Linked DNA regions of Homo sapiens: region 1 is linked to region 2. The links come from fine-mapping of genetic effects on gene expression. A gene starts in region 2. The other region holds a variant in brackets. All regions are shown on one strand. Distances are between the middles of the regions. Region 1 overlaps SLA2 (Src like adaptor 2). Region 2 holds the start of MYL9 (myosin light chain 9).

Region 1 (4,383 bases), 92 kb after region 2:
ACTGGCTACTGACCCAAGAGATCCTGTCACCATTTTAATGTTTTGCCAAGAGATCAGAATCATGTTGTGTCTTGGGGAAGGAGGAATCACCTCCTAGTCAACGCAGAGAAATTCTGTGACTATACTCTATTAAAAATCCTAGTTGCCAATGTGTTGGCTGAGCCTAGATCCCTACTGTGGGCCATTCACATTCACTTTTATTTTTTGAAATGGAGTCTGGCTCTGTTGCCCAGGCTGGAGTGCAGTGGTGCAATCATGGCTCACTGCACCCTGGAACTCCTGGACTTAAGTGATCCTCCCACTTCAGCCTCCGAAGTAGCTCGGACTACAGGGATGCACCACCATGCCTCACTACATTTTAAATTTTTTTGTAGAGAAGTGGTCTCATTATGTTGGCTAGGCTGGTCTCAAATTTCTGGGCACAAGTGATTCTCCCACCTCAGCCTCCCAAAGTGCTGGGATTACAGGTGTGAGCCACAGTGCCCGGCCTGTATTATTTTTAGAAATGCAGATTTTTGCTCTATTGCTGATAGGCTCTCATGGCAGCAACATGGCAGATGACAGCCAGACTGCTAGACACCAAGGCTAGGAACTCCAGCCCTTCACATTTGGCCTTCTGCCCCACCCTCAAGTCATATCACACTTGGCTCTTGGCATTGGAGGGGCAAGCCCTGGCATCACTGTGGATCTCAAATAGAGGTATGTTTCCCAAACTCTGTGCCATGGAACACTGGCTTCCAGTGACCCAGGAGCTCCCTGAGAGCAGGGACCATGGCCACCTCACTCAGCAGAGATGCCTAAGGCCTGACACATACAGTAGGTCCTGTCCTTCCCTGAAGCCTCCCCACATCATAGGTGCTGGAGAAGCATTTGCTGAATGAATGAACATGGAGTGACTCTGACTGGTGCTGCATGATGAAACACTCCTGTGTCAGAAACACTTGGGAAATGCCCAGTTAGGCAAACGCGACGCCTTAAGAAGTCTTGTGTTAACACGGATTGTGAACCTCTCAGAGAAGGATACGATTTTCGGGGTCCCCTAAACTGACCCCCCATCTCCTCTACTTCTAAGCAGGTGGCCCACAGAACACACTCAGAGAGTCCCTGTAATGCATCCTCTCGTTTCCCCCAAAACACACGCCCAGCACTGTGTCTCTGCTGAGTAGCAACCCCACTGCCTTGGGAGAAAACCAAAGCTTCTCAGCTCGGCATCCAAGGCCTCTGTGCTGGAGCTTGCTCACTTCTAACCTCCTATTGTCCCGAGGTGCAGCCCACTGGCCCACCCCAGCACCACTGTGTCTTGTTGCCTGGGATCCTGTGGGAACATCCCTCAGGATCCCAGGTCCACTCCTCCAGGTCCACTCATGGTCTATTCCTCCATGAAGCCTCCCTTGATTGCTCCAAAGTTAGCTGCCTCTCCTCTGCTTTCATGGCCTGTCTCCATCTCCCCCAGCCTGGGCTCCACATGGTTCATATGGGCAGGACACGGAGCTGGGGCTCAGGAAATCTTGGTTGACTGAGAAGTCAGGCAAAGCCTATTTTCTGGGCCGCACCTGCAGCCATATATCTGTGGGCTCCTTTCTGAGACCTCCACGTAGGGAGGGCCTGGGCTGGCACCGAGCTTACTCACCTCTCCTGGTCTGGCTCTCCCGGATGAGGAAGGCCCCTCCAGGGTTCCCAGGTAACAACAGCAGTTCCTCTGCTTTCTCCCTGCTCAGGCCCTCATACAGCCACCTGGCGGAGCGAAAGAGAGGGACAAGGGACAGGGTCAGCCTGGAGGAAGAGGGAAGCCAAGATTTTACCACCACCGCTGAGTGACCCTCACAAGGCCCTCCCTCTCTGGGCCTCAGAGTTCTATCTGCTCCACGAAGAGCTGGGCTCAGGGTCTCCGAGGTCCATGCCATTTTTGTCCTCCCAGTCCTGGCTCCAGGGCCCTGGGAGGACAAACTCATGGGGACAGCCTCAGCTTTCTCTGCCTGGAGACCTCATTCCCCCAAGTAACCTGGGTTGGTCCCAGCCTCTCTGCTATCCCTGCTCAGTCCCCAAAGCACCCTGATTCTATCCACTCACCTTTCTAAGCCTCAGCTTTCCAAGAGCTGCCCCTCTGTTTTTTTCTTTTTTTACTGAGACAGGCTCCTGCTCTGTGGCCTAGACTAGAGTGCAGTGGCGCAATCACGGCTCACTGCAGCCTTGACCTTCCAGGCTCAGATGATCCTCCCACCTCAGCCTCCCTAGTAGCTGGGACTACAGGTGCGCACCACTGTGCCAGCCCCTCACGCCACATGCTGCCATCTCCTACGTGGACTTTTCAGCATTTTCCACCAC[G/A]AGATCCTGGCAACCTCCAAAGCCCAGAGCTCCACACCTCCTCTGTGGGCCTTCCCAAGCCCTTCCTCTGGCTCCCACATCTCACAGGCCAACCTGTGCTAGGATGAGCTGTCTGCCCCTCTTGAGGGCAGGACCTGGGTTCGATTCTCCCCCATCCCCAGCTTTGCTCAGCGCAGAGCCGTGCACAAAGGGGAGTTCTTGTGGGAGGAGAAAGCAGGAAGCTCTGCAAGGCGGGCCTGGGGTGGGAACTCACCCATGGGAGACTTTGGCCACGTGGACGCTGGGGATGTTATACTCTCTGCCTGAGACTTCAGACAGCACCGTCCACCAGTCTCCATCCCTGGAGAGAGAAAGGAGTGGGGGCACCTCTTTCAGATGAGCCAAGGCCCCGACAACCACACATTCAGGGCTTGCAAGGACCCTCTCAGGCTGGATCCTGTGGCCACCTGTCCTGCCTGTTTCCCAGGCTTCCCTGCACTAGCCTGTCCAGGTACCTCCTGAGTCAGGGCTGGGGCTGGTGGTAGATGCACAATTCCAGGCTCCCTGCTACAGGGCGCTGCCCACCCACTGCTTCTCCCTGTGGGGGTGTCCAGCCGCCTGAAATTCCACCACAGGGTTTCTGTGAGCGCTTCAGCAAAGGCTTGTGCTTTTCTACCTGGGGGAAGGGCCCCTTCTCCCGGGACAGTATCTCTAATTCCTTCCTTCTTTTATTTTTTTGAGACAGAGTTTTGCTCGTCGCCCAGGCTGGAGTGCAATGGCGTGATCTCAGCTCACTGCAACCTCCTCCTCCCAGGTTCAAGTGATTCTCCTGCCTCAGCCTCCCAAGTAGCTGGGATTACAGGCGTCTGCCACCAAGCCCGGCTAATTTTTGTATTTTTAGTAGAGACGGTTTCACCGTGTTGGCCAGGCTGGTCTCGAATTCCTGACCTCAGGTGATCTGCCCACCTCAGCCTCCCAAAGTGCTGGGATTACAGGTGTGAGCTACCACGCCTGGCCCATTCATTTATTTTAGAGATGACAGGGTCTTGCTGTCACCCAAGCTGGAGTGCACTGGCTTGATCATAGCTCATTGCAGCCTTGAGCTCCCGAGCTCCAGCGATTCTCCCACCTAAGCCTCCCAGACAGCTAGCGCTACAGGCACACACCACCATGCCTGGCTCTATTAGTGCATATTCAGGTATCCAGTGCCCATGGACTTACTCAGAGACGATGGTCAATGGCTCCCCGAGTCTCAGCGACAGCTCGGCCGGGCCACCTGCCGGGAAACTGCCCAGGGCCACGGCTGTGGCCTTGCTTCTCTCTAGATGGAGGGACAGAAATAGTCACCTACTTAGCTAGCCCTGCTCCACGCATGAGGTCTAGTGGAGTCTGGCCTGGGTCTGGCTCCCAGCATCAGCCCTCCACAAGCACCCTGAGGGAGTCCCATCCACTTCCTAAGAGGGCCACCCTGGAATCAAGCTTTTCCAGCAGAACTTTGCAGAGCCCTGACAGTGCCCAGAGAGAGAGAGAGAGAGAGAGAAAGAAAGAAAAAAAAAATAGTGATAGGGTCTTGCTCCATCACCACTGCACGTAGGCTGAGCGACAGGGCAAGATCCTATCTCTAAAAATTAGGCTCAATGCAGCCTTGACCTCCCGGGCTCAAATCCTCCAGCCTCAGCCTCCTGAGTGGCTGGGACTACAGGTGTGCACCACTACACCCGGCTAATTTAAAACAATTTTTTAGTAGAGATGAGGTCTTGCTATGTTGCCCAGGACACGGTGGCCATGAGGCTCAGAATGTGGTGACCATAAGGCCCAATTTCAAGGCTGGGCATCAGGCGGCAAGGGCACCCTCAGCACAGCACCCACGCCCTCAGCCACCCCAGAGGGCAGCCTGCTCAGGCCAACCAGACTCCCTATGACCGCCGAGCCTTGTAGCCTGAAAATCCAGGTTTCAGCAGCTGCTGAAGGCCACTCACTGCACCCTAGCATCCCTCCCTTCTTCCCCCTTGTCCTTTTTCTGTAAGGATTCCTTAGCACATAAACACATTAAGTAGGAGAAGCAGCCAGGGTCAGCAA
Region 2 (4,383 bases):
AGACCCTGTTTCTACAAAAGTAGAAAACTTAGCCAGGTGTGGGCCGGGCGCAGTGGCTCACATCTGTAATCCCAGCACTTTGGGAGGCTGAGGCGGGCAGATAATGAGGTCAGGAGATCGAGACCATCCTGACTAACACGGTGAAACCCCGTCTCTACTAAACATACAAAAAAAAAAAATTAGCCGGGCATGGTGGCGGGCGCCTGTAGTCCCAGCTACTCGGAAGGCTGAGGCAGGAGAATGGCATGAACCCGGGAGGCAGAGCTTGCAGTGAGCCGAGATCGCGCCACTGGACTCCAGCCTGGGTGACAGAGCGAGACTCCGTTTCAAAAAAAAAAAAGAAAACTTAGCCGGGTGTGCTGGTGCATGCTTGCAGCCCTAGCTACTTGAGGGGGTCAAAGCAGGGGGATTGCTTGAGCCCAGGAGGTCAAGGCTGCAGTGAGCTATAATTGTGCCACTGCATGCCACCCACGGCGACAGAGTGAGACCCTATCTCAACCCCCCACCCCCAAAAAGAAATTCTGATATACACTAAACATGGATGAACCTGGGGCTTGAGGACATTATGCTGGGTGAAATAAGCCAGTGACAAAAGGTCGAATGCTATATGATTCCACTTACATGAGGCCCCAATAAGTAGATAAACTCACAGAAAACAGAAAGATGAATGATGACTGCCAGGGGCGGGGAGAAGGGGGCAAGGTGGAGTTAGTGTTTAACTGGCAGGGAGTTTCGGCTGAGGAAGATGAAAGTGCTCTGGAGATGGATGGTGGTGATGGTTGCAAAACAAAGTGAATATACTTAATGCCACCAAACTATACACTTAAAAATGCTGAAAATGGCATGAACCTGGGAGGCGGAGCTTGCAGTCAGCTGAGATGGCGCCACTGCACTCCAGCCTGGGCGACAGAGGGAGACTCCATCTCAAAAAAAAAAAAAAAAAAAAAAACACGCTGAAAATGGTAATTTTATGTTATGTATATTTTACCACAATCAAAAAATAAAATGTAAAACTGGGACACTGAAGAAATGTGATGACAAATGATCTTACTTTGGCTCCTAGACCAGAAAAAATTCCTCTAAAGGACATTATTGGGATAACTGGCACAACCTGAATATGGACTGTAAATTAGGTAATTAAATCAATGTGAAAATTGTCCTGACTTTTATCATTGTACTATGCATATTTAAGAGAATCTCCTTTTTAGGAGGTACTCACTGAAACATGTAGAGATAACAGGACATACGTATGCAAGAAACTCTCAAATGGTTGGGGGTAGGAATAAATAAATATAAATGTATGTACATGTATTATATATATGTATATGTATATGGAAAGCAAGAAGAAAATATAATAAAACCCAATGGTAACAAATGGAGAATCTAGATGAAGCTATACAGGGTTCTTTGCACAGTTCTTCTAACTTTATCCTAAGTCTGAAATCATTTCAAAATAAAGTTTTTAAAAATTAATCTGTCCAAAATAGAGTTTCTTATCCCCAAACTGCTCCACACAGCAAACCCATCATAGAAAATGGCAGCTCTTTCTCGTTGCTCACATCAAAACTCTGAGAGTCCACCCTAACTCTTTTCTTTCACACCCATTCCCATGCCCCAGCAGATCCTACCGGCTGCACCTCGGAAATAGTTTTAGCACTTGTCCCTCGGCCTCCCCGCTAGTCCGGATCAGCCTGATCCTTGCTGGGTCGCTCCTCACAGGTCCCCTGCTCGTGGACTCGGCCCCCTCTGCGCTATTTTCAACACATCACCCAGAAGGATTCCGTCAAAACCCAAGCCAGGTCGTCACCCCCTGCTCGGAACCCTCCGACACCCCACATGGCCTACAGGGAGCCACAGAGGGGTCCCTGCTGCTTCTCAGCCCCTCCGGCTCCCGCCCCCATCCTCCTGACCTCCTGCTGCCGGCGACCCCAAGCCCGGGAGCCCTCACGGCGGGGCGCACCCCTGCACCTCCTGTCTGCCCAATGTCACTGCCCAGAGCACCCTGCGGAACAGCCCACGCTCCCCCCAGGTCCCCTTCTCCTTTGAGGCCCCAGGCCGCGGAGCTACTTGTTCATCGTGTTTCCCTCCACGAAACCAGTGCTTCCCGAGTGGTTCCTTCAACCCCGCTCTGGCGGGCGACCGCTGATGTGGACAGAGCGAGTCACCGGGCGTAGGGGTCCCTGGGAGCCCCCCCACCCACCGCCTCTGCCCTCCCCACGTCGAGAGCCGTTGCCCGTCAGGGGAAGCTGCACTCCCACGGCCCATACAAGTGGGAGGCCTCTGGGGAAGCGGCCCTGGACATTCCGTTTGCCTCTCTGGAGGGGAAGGGGTGGCCCAGAGCGAACCCCCACACCCCCTCTCCCATTGCCTGCTCACCCCATCACCTCCCCTCCCTACAAGGCCCTCTGTGCAGCCCGGGCTGGCACAGCAAGGAAGGGGGGCTCACCCCAGAGCGCCCCCGCCTGCCAGCCCGTGGGTCGAGGCCAAATAAGGCCGGACGGCAGCCGAGGGCCCCCGCACCCCGCCCGCGGCCCCGCCCCGCGCACATTCTTCTGCCTTGTAAGGCCCGGCCGCCACGCCCCGCCCCCGCCTGGAGTCCAGACCCGACGGCCGGCCCAGTTCCACGCACCCAGCGAGCCCAAGCGCCTTCTCCGCACCAGGTGGGATCCGGGGCCCCGGGGGTCTTGAGGACAGGCCTAACGGCCCAGGGCTGGAGATGAGAGGTGGCCCGGGCCCGACCCGGCTGTCACGGGGGGCAAAGGCGGGCCCCACGGACTGGGACGTGGTAGGGTCTGTTGGGCACGGACTGAGGGGTGAGCTGGGGCAGCGAGTTTGCTGGGGGCCGACAGGGACTCTGGCCAGGGGCCGGGCAGCAGGAAGGCTGTTCTGGCCTCTGAGAAGCAGTGGTCCTGCGGCAAGGGAAGGCCATCGTCCAGGCCCTGCCCCTTTGCTGAGGAGCTGGAGATGCCAAGCCCAGAGCTCCGGGGGGGGCTGGGGAGCCCGGGTACAAGGGTGCTGGGGAGAGGGTTGCAGTCGTCAGTTCCCCCTGGCCCAGTAAAGGCATGTGTGTCACAGATGGAGAAACAGCCCTGTGGGACTCCACGCCCCCACAGCATCTGTGTCCCCTCCCCATCTCCCATCCCTACACCCTGGGCCAGGGGAAAGGGACCGAGACCAGGGGGCCCTTCCGACACAGCCAGTGCTGTATGCAGGGACCCGGGCCTTCCCCTCTCTGGGTCATCTCGCCTGTGGGTGGGGAAGGTCTGCGGAGGGCCCTGATGGACTCACCCCTAGGGGGCAGGACGAGGACTAGTGGCTGGGAGAACCTGATCCCTGCTCTTCCCAGCCCTCCAGCTGCTCTAAGGAGGAGACTCAGATGAGGTGCACTGAGAAGGAGGCATCTGGCCTGCCCAGCTCCAGGGGCTGGAGGTCATGGGGGCACTGCCCTGTGCTGGCTTCAGCCCAGCCTTTTCTGTTATGGTGGGAATCTGGACACCAGGATGGGGGACATGGCATCCAGTCACATCCAGGCCAAGTATCAGTGCTGACCCCTGGTGTCTAGGGCACCTGAAGGGGGAAGCGATGGCCTCAGAACTAAAGGCCCCACCCATGCCTGCCCCTCGCCCCTCCACCAGTTCTAGAAGGCGCCTCTGGATACACAGAGCCCTTTCCCACTCCACTGCCACAGGCCCGCCTGAGGACTGGGGCTCCCTGTTTTGTTCAAGCCTCGAGGGCACCAGCAGCCAAGTTTGCTCTCCACTGACCCAAACCTAGCCCAGGAATCCTGTCTTCCAGGTGGCCCCTCCCCCTCTCATGGGCACTCCACTCCCCTTCTGGGGCCTCTTTTCCTAGCTGCACCATGGGGGCACCCCTGCCTCCGCTCACCACTTCCCACAATTGCTGGGGTGGACATGGCGGCCTTGTGCAAGCCCTTAAGTACAGTGCTCCCAGCCACACCACAGCAGAGAGTGCAGACCGGGTGGCCATGAAGGCAGAGGGGCCCAGCTGGGCTCAGACCCAGCTGTGGGTGGCCTGGCCATGCCTGCCCTAGAGCTTCATAGAGTGTGGTGGGGACAGTGATGGCCATCACAGCCTCTGTTGGGCACAGTGCACTGCCTCTCTGCATGCAGCCTTCTGTGGGCACCAGGAGTCAAAGTTCCCGAGAACACTGGACTCAGGGAAGGACTAGGCCCCTCTAAAGCACGGGAGAGGAGGGGGCCGGCATCTGGGGACAATGGCACTCCCAACTAGGTCATGGGTGAGAAGGAATTCTGTCTACCTTCCTGAACCATGCAAGAAACACTGAGGGCTGGGTGTGTCGGTCCGTGGGACACGGGCAACCACTGTCTCATGACTACAGGCAGTGATGGCCCTGGGGACCAG

What was found.
Region 1: its variant is fine-mapped to the expression of MYL9 in whole blood (TOPMed, PIP above 0.99).

Annotation. Positions count from the first base shown.
Region 1 is chr20:36,630,965-36,635,347 of GRCh38, forward strand. SLA2 (Src like adaptor 2) reads right to left here. Exons shown (of 8, transcript NM_032214.4): 3 at 3,526-3,625; 4 at 2,579-2,665; 5 at 1,631-1,734. Among named protein-coding and RNA genes, the nearest start is that of SLA2, 13 kb to the right of the region's middle. RefSeq lists an enhancer at 2,062-2,563. The variant G/A (reference allele first, on the strand shown) is at 2,326.
Region 2 is chr20:36,538,902-36,543,284 of GRCh38, forward strand. MYL9 (myosin light chain 9) reads left to right here and starts at 2,618. Exons shown (of 4, transcript NM_006097.5): 1 at 2,618-2,660. All of the region lies in intron 2 of DLGAP4-AS1 (DLGAP4 antisense RNA 1), which reads right to left. RefSeq lists a silencer at 2,439-2,638 and enhancers at 3,419-4,072, 4,073-4,383.